Homo sapiens: one gene and its partners. The protein of the gene in region 2 purifies or fractionates together with the protein of the main gene of each other region. This does not show direct contact. Each region holds a gene or a part of one and is shown on either strand. Other genes may lie near its edges. The genes, in order: STRN4, GEMIN2 and SNRNP70.

Region 1 (3,747 bases), on a different chromosome or scaffold from region 2:
GTTCTGTACCTCTCTGCTACCCAGTACAGTTGAGAAAATTGGTTCAGGCAAGCATAGTGGCCTCCCCAGGGTCACCCAAGCAGTCATAGCAGAGCTTGGACTGAATCTTGGCCTCTGGGACTTTGCACCAGTGCACCGCACAGCACCCACCACACCATCTTCTCATCCTGGAGGCTGATGAGAGAAAAGATGTTTATCCCCTCACTTACTGACCCTTCTTGGAGTTTGAGAGGAACTTGTGTCTGGCATGGTACCAGCACTGTCACTTTGTACTTTTGTTTTCTTTTATTCTGTTAAGTTAGTAAAAATTCAGACATCTCAGAGGGGTGTGTGTGTGTGTGTGAGTGTGTGTATACACATATATATGTAAGTGAAAAAGGAAAGTTCCTTCTCTTCGTCCCTTTCCTGCTCTTCTCTCCTGAGAGAGAAGAGTTATTGTGCTTATGTAATAGATGAACTACTGCTGTATGTATCATTTTGTGACATAATAATCTGTTTTGGTTTTCCTTTCATATCAGCACAGAGAACTCTTTCTTTTTGATAGCTGCATAGCGTCCCACGGGATGTTTGCACCATAGCTGATTGAGTTTGACCCTGGTTGGTGGACTTTTAGATTTTTTCTAGTTTTTCCCCCATCAGACATGGCTGCAGTGAGAACCCCTTATTCCTGTGCAAGAATGAAGCAGAACAGATGAGTGGAATAGTAGAATGGATGTGTTTATGAAACAGTGATTGGGCTGGGCGCGGTGGCTCGCGCCTGTAATCCCAGCACTTTGAGAGGCCAAGGCAGGTGGATCACAAGGTCTGGAGTTCAAGACCAGCGTGGCCGATATGGTGAAACCCCACCTCTACTAAAAATACAGAAATTAGTCGGGCGTGGTGGTGGGCGCCTGTAGTCCCAGCTACTCGGGAGGCTGAGGCAGGAGAATCGCTTGTACCCGGGAAGCAGAAGTTGCAGTGAGCCGAGATCACACCACTGCACTCCAGCCTTGGTGACAGAGCGAGATGCCATCTCAAAAAAAATAAAAATAAAAAAAGAAACAGTGAATGACTCTGCCACATTGACCCACCAGTTTACTCTCCCATCAGCGGCACCTCTTTTACACACCTTTACTTGAACACTTAGTGCTAACAGACGGTGTGACTTCCCCTGTGAGATCCCTTAAGAGCTAGGCAGTGTCAGATTTTCCTGATGGACTCTGAATAACTTTTCTCTGAAGAGCTTAATACAGCTGCTCCTAGCAGAAGACCTGCCGTGCGACCCTGCTTGGTACCTGTGTGTTGAATGGCAGAGAAGGCAGCCCCCAGGGAGGTCCTGCCAGTAGTCACCATAAGTTTGGAGCAGGAAGGTGGCGGAGCTGCAGTCTGATAATGAGCAGGCATTTGCTAGGTGGGGGATTCTGAGAAGTAAGTAACGTGGTTTCTGCCCATCCGAAACTTCCAGGCTGGCAGAGGAAGCTTGTTTGTGCAGGGGACCGCAGAGCTGTAGATGTTCATGCACAGTTGATTGTGTGGCTCTGCCCCTGTTCTGTGGCAACTCTGAGAGGGGAAGCTTTTTGAGGATGGGAGGGACCTTTTAATGAGGGATCTGAACTGGAGATTTGTATAGGAGCAGCGACAGGGACCTGCAGTGAGTGCGGTGCCAGCAGAGAATGTGCGGAGCTGCCCCTGCCCACTTCAGCTTCCTGGGGGCCCATTCCTGCCAGCAGCTGCTGAAGCTTGGGAAGGAGGCCCTTAGGAGATGCAGGGCTAGATGGCACGAAACGGGGACTCTTCCCAGCTAGCTGGGACAGGAAGCAGCGAATTCAGAGAGGCATCAGCTCCTGGGAGGACTGAATTGCTGGGACTCCTCCGAAGCCTTTAGATGTCGCCTTGCTGGGAATAGCTGGAGGGGCGGAGAGGCAGTAGCTGCCAGGTATCAGAAGGTTTTGGGAGCGCATGCTCTGCGGCTCTGGCTAGAGGGAGTGGCAGTGGGTGGATATGGTGAGCGGCACTTCCAGATCCCCGACCGACCCTCAGGCCTACCTTGGCCCTCGCAGACCAGACAGCCCGTGGGGGCTGCTGGCGTTTGCAGCGAGGGAGAGACTGGCCACTGACGCTTCCCGTTTTTGGTGGGTTTCCACCTCCCTGAGATGCTCCAACCATGTCTTTCTGGTTCTCTTTCCAGAGGCACTGGGAAAGGGACAGCAAAGCAGAGTGGGCAGCTGAGACCCTCACATCCTCATTAGGAGGAGGGAGACCACAGCTCGATGAGGCAGCAGAGGGATGAAGGGGGAACCCAGCCAGTGACAGGTCTGGTTGGGATGCCCAACTCCACCTCCTGCCCCCACAGATAGACCACTACTGTGTCCACTGCCCCGGCCTAGTCCAAGCCACTACCGTTCTGTCCTGGGATTTCTGGGACTGCCCTCATCTGTGATGGGGGTCTCTGTGTCCAGCTCTGCCGCTCTCCTGCTCCCTCCCTCTAGTCTCCCTCCAGAACTCCCTCCAGTCAGTTCTCCATGTTTTAGCTGGAGCTGCCTTTATAACATGCGAATCGGTTACCTCTCTGTACTTAAAACCCTTCCATGGCTTCACTGAGCCTTTTACAGGTTCTGAAGCAGCCATCCTGGCCTTTTTTAGAGTTCCTTAAGCCCACCATGCAGCTCTTGTCTCCGTCCTCTGCCAGCAGGGCCCTTCCCTCCCCTGGCTAACTTCTCTTCAGCTTCAGGCCTTAGCTGAATTGTCGCCTCTTGTCCCTCTTCCCATAGCGTCCTTCGCTCCCGCAATGGGGTCCTAGTCACATTGCATGTGAGTTGCTGCTCATGCCTGTCTCCTGCATGGGACTGAGCCCTGTGGGTGCAGGAACCACATGGCTCCTCTGTTATTCCCCAGCGCCTTACTGGGGCACCTGATGTGTGTGGGCAGTCACCAAACAGTGGCAGGTATTGACCAAGGTGTAGGTTCCCGGCAGGCTGAACTGCCCCTGGGAGGTTGAGGGATCAATCACCAAACCCCAGGAGGGAAGGGAGGAGAGTGAGGAGGAAAGTCAGGACTTGTCTTCGGTGGTCGGTCTGCCTCTCCTCACACCTTCTCCAGTGATTCAGAGAGTAGATTTGGGGGACTGAGAAGATACACAAAGGACAGAAACTCATGCTTCAGAGATGCTGATGTCATATAAGTAGTTTCCCTGTCTGGCCTTGGATGTTTATATACATATGTGTTGGTAAAAAGTGTTAAAAAGGAAAAAAATTTCCCATTCTTGAAGCGGACAGATGAGTTTTCTTTTCTATAAGGTAACTGGTGACATGTATTTCTTTTTTTTTTTGAGACGAAGTCTGGCTCTGTCGCCCAGGCTGGAGTGCAGTGGCACGATCTTGGCCCACTGCAATCTCCACTTCCCAGGTTCAAGCGATTCTCCTGCCTCAGCCTCCCGAGTAGCTGGGACTACAGGTGTGTACCACCATGCCTGGCTAAGTTTTTTGTATTTTTAGTAGAGATGGGGTTTCACCATGTTGGCCAGGCTGGTCTTGAACTCCTGACCTCAAGTCATCTGCCCACCTCAGCCTCCCAAAGGGCTGGGATTACAGGCGTGAGCCACTGTGCCTGGCCAATCCACAGACATTTCTAGTTGATCTGGGGTCTCCAAGGGATCCTACCTCCCGTAAGGAACTGGGCCCATTTCGAAGTTGCGAACAATGGACAGGGAGAATAAAAATGATGAAAGAAGTAGAAGCTGGCATTTGTTAGCCTTTATTCTGTGCCAGG
Region 2 (3,747 bases):
AAAAAAAAGAAAAAGAAATAAAATAAAATGCCACCCTCCTTTGAGCTTAGGTTAAATAGCACCTCCTTAGAGAGACCTTTGCTGGCCAGGCGTGGTGGCTCACATCTGTAATCCCAGCACTTTAGGAGGCAGAGGCAGGCAGATCACTTCAGGTCAGGAGTTTGAGACCAGCCTGGCCAACATGGTAAAACCACGTCTCTACTAAAAATACAAAAATTAGTCAGGTGTGGTGGCACACGCCTGTAATCCTAGCTACTCAGGGGGCTGAGGCAAGAGAAGCTCTTGAACCTGAGAGGCAGAGGTTGTGATGAGCTGAGATTGTGCCACTGCACTCCAGCCTGGGCGAAAAATTGAGACGCAAAAAAAAAAGGGGGAAAAAGAGAGCCCTTCTATGATTCCTCTACAGTAGTTCTGTCATTTATTGATTATTATACATGCTTATTTTCTTCATAGCAATAATCACAATATGTAATTATTTGTTTGCTTGTTTACTCTCTGTCTTCCTCAGGAGGGTATGTAAACTCTACAAGGGTAGGAACCTTTTTTGTCTTACCCTCTGTTGAATTCCCAATGCCCGGCACAACCTAGTTGCTTAATTAAAGATGTGCTGGATAAATAAATAAATGAAAATGTCCAGAGTGTGCAAGTAGCTATAAAAGTGTAAGGCCGGGTATGGTGGCTCACACCTGTAATCCCAGCAGTTTGGGAGGCAGAGGTGGGCGCATCACGAGGTCAGGAGTTCAAGACCAGACTGGACAACATGGTGAAACCCCGTCTCTACTAAAAATACAAAAATTAGCCGGGTGTGGTGGTGGGCGCCTGTAATCCCAGCTACTCGGGAGGCTGAGGCACGGTAATCGCTTGAAACCGGAAGGCAGAGGTTGCAGTGAGCTGAGATCGCACCACTGCACTGCAGCCTGGGCAACAAGAGTGAAACTGTCTCAAAAAAAAAAAAAAAAAAAGTGTAAGACATCTGGGTTTCTATTCTTAAAAAAAGTGAAACTTGGTCAAATTCAGAACATGCAAAGCACACTAAGATTAAACACCAATCCAATAACTGGAAAAAGTTCCTTAAAAAATAAAGGGGCCAGGTGAGGTGGCTCACGCCTGTGATCCCAACGCTTTGGGTGGCAGAGGAGGGAGGATCACTTGAGGCCAGGAGTTCCAGACCAGCTGGCAACAGAGACTCCCTCTCTATAAACAAACAAACAAGCAAAAAATAAAAGATAACATAAGTAACCCATTTAAAGACTCCTTTGAAAGGACTGGATAATGTCCTGAAGTAAGATGGGCAACACTCCACAAAGGCTAGAGTTACAGAAAGCCTCTTTAGAGGCAGTAAATGCCAATTGTCTTTCTGAAGGAAAAAGTACAAGCGAATGTCTAACTTTGCACGGAGTAGTCAAATCTTACGTCATAATTGATGCTGTCAGATACTATAGGAAGAGCGTTAGTCTTTTAATTGGGGGGTTGGGGGTAATCTCCAGACGGTTAATAAAACTCACAGAAATATTCACACTTTGCTTCCTTTTCAACTTCTTTGGGTCAATTTGAGCTACCACAACATCTGGACATTGAGCTGCTTCGATCCTACAAATAAGTAATAAACGCGATAAATTAAATTTCTGTTGTGCTTTGCTCAGGTGTAGTAAAACAAGCGATCCACTTCCACAGTTCATTGTGAAATCAGAAAAAAATTCAGACTTCCAATTGAGGTACTAAACAATGTATTTCTGAAATTATCTGGATTGAAAACAAATCTAAGAGCACACATCTTGATACGTGCAATCACGTTCAACAGAAACTCGCCCACGTTAGGATGTAATCCAGAATCCTGAATAGACCTGAACTCGCAACAGACTGGAACGGGAATAGAGCACCGAGGGCTGTACCCAGGGGCAGGGCAGAAGACCAGCCCACCCGCCCAGGGCCGAATCACTCACTGGACCCGCCTCAGGTATTCCTGAGGCGTCCTCGGGGGTACCGAGGGATCGAAACCTTCCGTCAAGTCGCAAGGCTCTACCGGCAATAGCCGAGGCATCAACTCTTCCACTGCGGACTCCGCTGGTACCCACGCCATGGTTTTCAAACCAGCCAGTTCCGCTCGGCGCATGCGCCCATTCTAGGTCACAGCGCAGGCGTACTAATAGACACCTTAGGCGCGGAGCTGAGCAAGTGGCAGTTTAGGGAGCGTTAACTGCGCATGAACAAATTGCTGCTTGCCTCAAGGTTAAGGCTCCGGTGGTGTAATAAAGGATCTGAGAATTTAATTCCTAGCTGAATTGGTTCGAACGCGTTTCTGGGACTTTTACCCTCTGTTTTGTCTTCTAACGCTGGGTAAAGGCCGAGGGTTAGCAACTTTTATGCATCCCTAGTAGTGAGGGATCCTTAAAAATGTTTTTTGAATTAATGAACAATATTACTGTAATTATCATTCATGGAGCTCTAAATTCTTAAACTCTTCATAAACACATTTTCTCATTTGATTCTTAGAACAGTCTTGTGAAGTGGGTGGTAATATACCGCTCTCTTAGGGCAGGGACTGACCTTCCAAAGAGGAAGAACCAATTCCAACCTAGATTTATGCGATGCCAAATGAATGAAAAATTAATTTTCTACAGAAATTTCTAGTGCTTGACCACTTCAAAGATCACTGTATGTTTATTTGGAATGAATATTACTCCTAGAATAGCCAGCACTTTTTAATTTTTGTTTTAAAGAAAAATCTCTTCGTTTAAATACAAATAGTGAAAAAAATGAAACTAATGCTAACACCCAGAAATTAACAAAAATGTTAGGTCAATCTTGTTAGGTAGATAGTATTATTATCTCCATTTCATAGGTGAGGAAACAAGGCAAGAATGTGCAAGAAACAAGTATAATATCTGATTATTTCTAAACAAATACAATTGAGTGAATACAATTGACTTATTTTCTAACACTGATGTTTATTTTAGAAGGTTAAAAATTTTTATTTATGGCACTGCCTTTAGTTTGCAAGGAATTGATTTCAAACCAGGATGTAAGTCTAAATTGAAGATAAAGTGAGGATAGTCCTTAGCTTATTTAAGTACTTAATGCTTAGGAACTGTAACTAAACAATTGGGACACTTGGAAAGATATCACCTGGCTGCAAACTACAGTTATTTGGTTAACAAATTTTCACTGGTTTTGGGAAAAACAGACTTAGAATAGGGAGAAATACTCCTGTCGTCCAACATTTTGGTGATAATCAAGGACAAATTTGAAAAAGTAAGTAGTGACGTGAGGACTAAACTGAATTTTTTTTTTTTTTTTTTTGAGACGGAGTCTCGCTCTGTCGCCCAGTCTGGAGTGCAGTGGCGCAATCTCGGCTCACTGCAAGCTCCGCCTCCCGGGTTCACGCCATTCTCCTGCCTCAGGCTCCCGAGTAGCCGCCGGGACTACAGGCACTCGCCACCACGCCCGGCTAATTTATTGTATTTTTAGTAGAGACGGGGTTTCACCTTGTTAGCCAGGATGATGTCGATCTCCTGACCTCGTGATCCACCCGCCTCGGCCTCCCAAAGTGCTGGGATTACAGGCATGAGCCACCGCGCCCGGCCTGATTTTTTTATTTTGCCCAAATTCCTATCTAAGGGGTCTGGGGAGTCATGCCCTACAAATCATAAATTCTCATCAGATGGGTTTTATTTAACCCTATATATCACGATTTACTTTTCAACCTCACTTCGAAATGACATTACGAGACAAAGAAGAAAATAAAAA
Region 3 (3,747 bases), on a different chromosome or scaffold from region 2:
TGGTTTCACCATGTTGGCCAGGCTGGTCTTCAACTCCTCACCTCAAGTGATCCGCCTGCCTCGGTCTCCCAAAGTACTGGGATTACAGGCGTGAGCCACCGTACCGGGCCACAACCCCACTTAAAAAAAAAATTTTTTTTTTGAGAGACGAAGTCCTGCTCTGTCACCCAGGCCGGAGTATAGTGGCACAATCACAAAGCACTCCAGCCTCCGACTCCTGGGCTCAAGCAATCCTCCCACCTCAGCCTCCTGAGTAGCTGAGACTACAGACGCACTCGACCACACCCGACACCCGGCTCCAACCCCATTTAAAACAGAGAAACTGAGGATCACAAAGGTTAAGCCCCTCGCTTAAATCACGCAGCTGGCAAAATGGCCAGAAGCTGGACTCGCAAATCCAACCCGTTGCTCCCCAGAACCCAAACCATTCCTGGCCTGCTCAGTGAACTCACCTCAAACTCTCGAATGTACGGCGCAATGCCACAATAAGGTTGATTGTGGTGTTTTTCATGTGGCAGTTTCTCCAGGGGTGGCAGGTATGGAATAGGGTCACGGGGGGCAAAGAGGGCCAGAAGGTTGGGCGGCAGGAACTGGGTCATCTTGCCAAGTCTGAGAGCAGAAGCAGGACAGCCTTAGGTTAGATCGGGTCTGCACAGAGAAAGCCCCTGTTACTCCTTGACTCTCAAAATAAGAAAGACAGGAGAAAAGTCTCGGAATTAAAACAGGCTCTGTAAGGGCAGAGAACAGTCCTGTGTTGCGGAGAAAAGGGTACGTCTTGGTGGGGGTGGAGGTGAAAGGCCGGTAAAGAAAACAAAAATAACGGCTGGAAAAGGGTTCCTGAAGAGTGAAGTCTCAGAGTCCTCTGACACGAGCTGTGGGGCGGAGAGGTTCCCTGGGAATTTCTGGGGAAATCAAGGACCCGAGGAGGGAGGCCCAGAGCAGCTGTGGCTGCTCGTCCCGTGCCGTGGAGGGCAAATTACGAGATGCAGTTTGCAGGGTCCTGGGGATCGGAAGTTTCCAAGCAAAGAAAGAGAAACATAAGGAGCGAAGCCCCAAAACCAAGTGCTTGTGGGTAACAGACCTGGACCCCGCAAAAAGCGAAAGGAATTATGGGTAAGGGTCCAGGACAACATAGACAAACGAAAAAGAAAAAAGGCCACACACCGCAAGGGCCTGTGGGTAGGGAACCACGAGGGCGCTGTGGGAAGCGGGCGTGGGTGCCCAGAGATTTCGGGGTCCGGGAAAGGGATGCAGAAGGGACCTGTGGCGGGGACGCGGGAAAGGGGCCTGGCCGCGGGGAAGAGGACCGGGCCCACCGCTGGGGCTTCTGGGTAGCGGCCCCGCACCCCGTCGGGCCACTCAGTCACACTCACTCACCGCGTAGCGCCCTCCTCGCTCTGGCGTCTGTCCGGAGGCTCGCGGCGGCTGCGGCAGCCCCTCAGCAACAACAACTCCTGCTTCGGCTTCCACTCCGGGGGCGTCCACGTCCGTCTGATTCCGTCGCCCGCTAAGCGAGCGCACCAGGCCGCTGCTCAGCCACCCGCGCGGCCTCCGATAGCGACTGGAGCAGGGGGTGGGTCCCGGCCGCAAATCCCTCCGCCGTCCTCACTGCGCACGCGCCGTGCGGTGCCAACAACAACCCACACACTAGGACCCGGCGCTGCCGCGGGCACAGCGCACGCGCGAGGTCACTACCCCGCCTTTGGGCACCTTGAGTACCTCAGCCGCGGGGGGCTGGCTTCTGCACTGCGCGCGCGCGCTTGCCCCAAGCCGCCCCTCCACCTCCCGCTTTCCGCGCCGAACCGCCTATGTCCGCGAGACTCTCCCTGATGCTCCGCCCCTTTCCGATCACACTTCCCGGATCTTTCGCGCATGCGTTTTGCGTAGAGAACTGTAACGTACCTCTCCGCCGCCTAGCAAAGAGTCCCTAGGTGAACAGCCTGATTGCGTTGATGTCTAATCTATTCAATCAATAACTATTCATCGAGCATCTCGTGTGTGCTAGGCACTGTCTGGGCTTTGGGGGTACAGCACGTGATTAAAGCAAAGTCTTCTGCTGCTAGGGCTTACATTGTACTGGGAGAGACAATAAAAGCATTTAACTGAATAAAGATAATTTGAGGCCAGGCGCGGTGGATCACGCCTGTAATCCCAGAACTTTTGGGAGGCTGAGGCGGGCAGATCACCTGAGGTCAGGAGTGTGAGACCAACCTGACCAACATGGTGAAAGCCCGTCTCTACTAAAAATACAAAAATTAGCCGGGCGTGGCCGTGCGCGCCTGTAAGCCCGGTTACTCTGGAGGCTGAGGCGGGAGAATCGCTTGAACTCGGGAGGCGGAGGTTGCAGTGAGCCGAGGTCGTGCCATTGCACTCCAGCCTGGGCGACAGAGCGACTCCGTCTCAAAAGTAAATAAATAAATAAATAATAAAAGATAATTTGAGATAGTGGCCAGCATAATGAAGAACGATGGAGCAGAATAAAGGGATGGGAAGTGAGAGCGAGGCTGTTTTAGAAAGGGTGATAATGGAAGGCCCCTCTGAAGAGGTAACATTTGAATAAAGGACAGATAGAAGCGAGATCTGGGGTGGGGCCGGGGGGGCGGTGTTTAACAGTAAGTGCAAAGGTCCTGAACTGAGACCAGATGGCAGGAATCTCAGGTTGTTGGCCATGAGATCAGAGAGCTGGCACTTGTTATTTAGAGCCCTGTTCTTAAGTATTGTATCTTAAGTTTTGTGGATGGATTCAATAGCCTGTTTAATAACTACAGAAATTATTGCAAATTAAAATGACTAATTTTATGTTTCAAGAAAAAGGCCGAGTGCAGTGCTCACGCCTGTAATCCCAGCACTTTGGGAGGCCAAGGCGGGCAGATCACCTGAGGTCAATAGTTCGAGACCAGACTGATCAACATGGAGAAACCCCGTCTCTACTAAAAATACAAAATTAGCTGGGCATGGTGGCACATGCCTATAATCCCAGCTACTTGAGAGGCTGAGGCAGGAGAATCACTTGAACCTGGGAGGCAGAGGTTGTGGTGAGCCAAGATGGCACCATTGCACTCCAGCCTGGGAGACAAGAGCAAAACTCCGTCTCAAATAAAAAAAAGAAGTGGGAGGATCGTTTGAGCCGAGAAAGTTGAGGCTGCAGTGAGCCAAGATTGTGCCACTAGACTCCAGCCTGGGCGACAGAGCGAGACTCCGTCTCAAAAAAAAAAAAAAAAAAAGAAAGAAAAGGGCTGGGTGTGGTGGCTCACACCTGTAATCCCAGCACTTTGGGAGGCCGAGGTGGGCGGATCACCTGAGGTCAGGAGTTCGAGACCAGCCTGGCCAACATGGTGAAATCCCATCTCTACTAAAAATACAAAAATTAGCTGGGAGTGGTGGCACGCACCTGTAATTCCAGCTACCTGGGAAGCTGAGGCAGGAGAATTGCTTGAACCCGGGAGGCAGAGATTGCACGACTGCACTCCAGCCTGGGCAACAGAGTGAGAATCTGTCTCAAAAAAACAAATAAAATAGGCCGGGTGTGGTGGCTCACACCTGTAATCCCAGCACTTTGGGAGGCCAAGGTAGGAGGATCCCTGAGATCAGGAGTTCAAGACCAGCCTGGGCAACATGGCGAAACCCCTTCTCTACTAAAAATACAAAAATTAGCTGGACATGGTGGCATGCACCTGTAATCCCAGCTACTTTGAAGGCTAAGGCAGGAGAATCGCTTGAATCTGGGAGGTGGAGGTTGCAGTGAGC

Evidence for each region.
Region 1: the proteins of GEMIN2 (region 2) and STRN4 purify together in Homo sapiens (affinity purification with mass spectrometry; 2 studies listed by BioGRID and IntAct, with this or other methods). This does not show direct contact.
Region 3: the proteins of GEMIN2 (region 2) and SNRNP70 purify together in Homo sapiens (affinity purification with mass spectrometry; 6 studies listed by BioGRID and IntAct, with this or other methods). This does not show direct contact.

What each region holds. Positions count from the first base shown.
Region 1 is NC_000019.10:46,739,849-46,743,595, reverse strand, and holds part of STRN4 (striatin-4), read left to right. Parts: intron 1-3,747. UniProt on the Homo sapiens protein: Calmodulin-binding scaffolding protein which is the center of the striatin-interacting phosphatase and kinase (STRIPAK) complexes.
Region 2 is NC_000014.9:39,112,672-39,116,418, reverse strand, and holds the start of GEMIN2 (gem-associated protein 2), read right to left. Parts: upstream 2,097-3,747; 5' UTR 2,081-2,096; coding exon 1,944-2,080; exon of another isoform or gene 1,591-1,943; coding exon 1,506-1,590; intron 731-1,505; exon of another isoform or gene 554-730; intron 1-553. UniProt on the Homo sapiens protein: The SMN complex catalyzes the assembly of small nuclear ribonucleoproteins (snRNPs), the building blocks of the spliceosome, and thereby plays an important role in the splicing of cellular pre-mRNAs.
Region 3 is NC_000019.10:49,083,267-49,087,013, reverse strand, and holds the start of SNRNP70 (U1 small nuclear ribonucleoprotein 70 kDa), read right to left. Parts: upstream 1,564-3,747; 5' UTR 1,378-1,563; intron 610-1,377; 5' UTR 600-609; coding exon 453-599; intron 1-452. UniProt on the Homo sapiens protein: Component of the spliceosomal U1 snRNP, which is essential for recognition of the pre-mRNA 5' splice-site and the subsequent assembly of the spliceosome. SNRNP70 binds to the loop I region of U1-snRNA.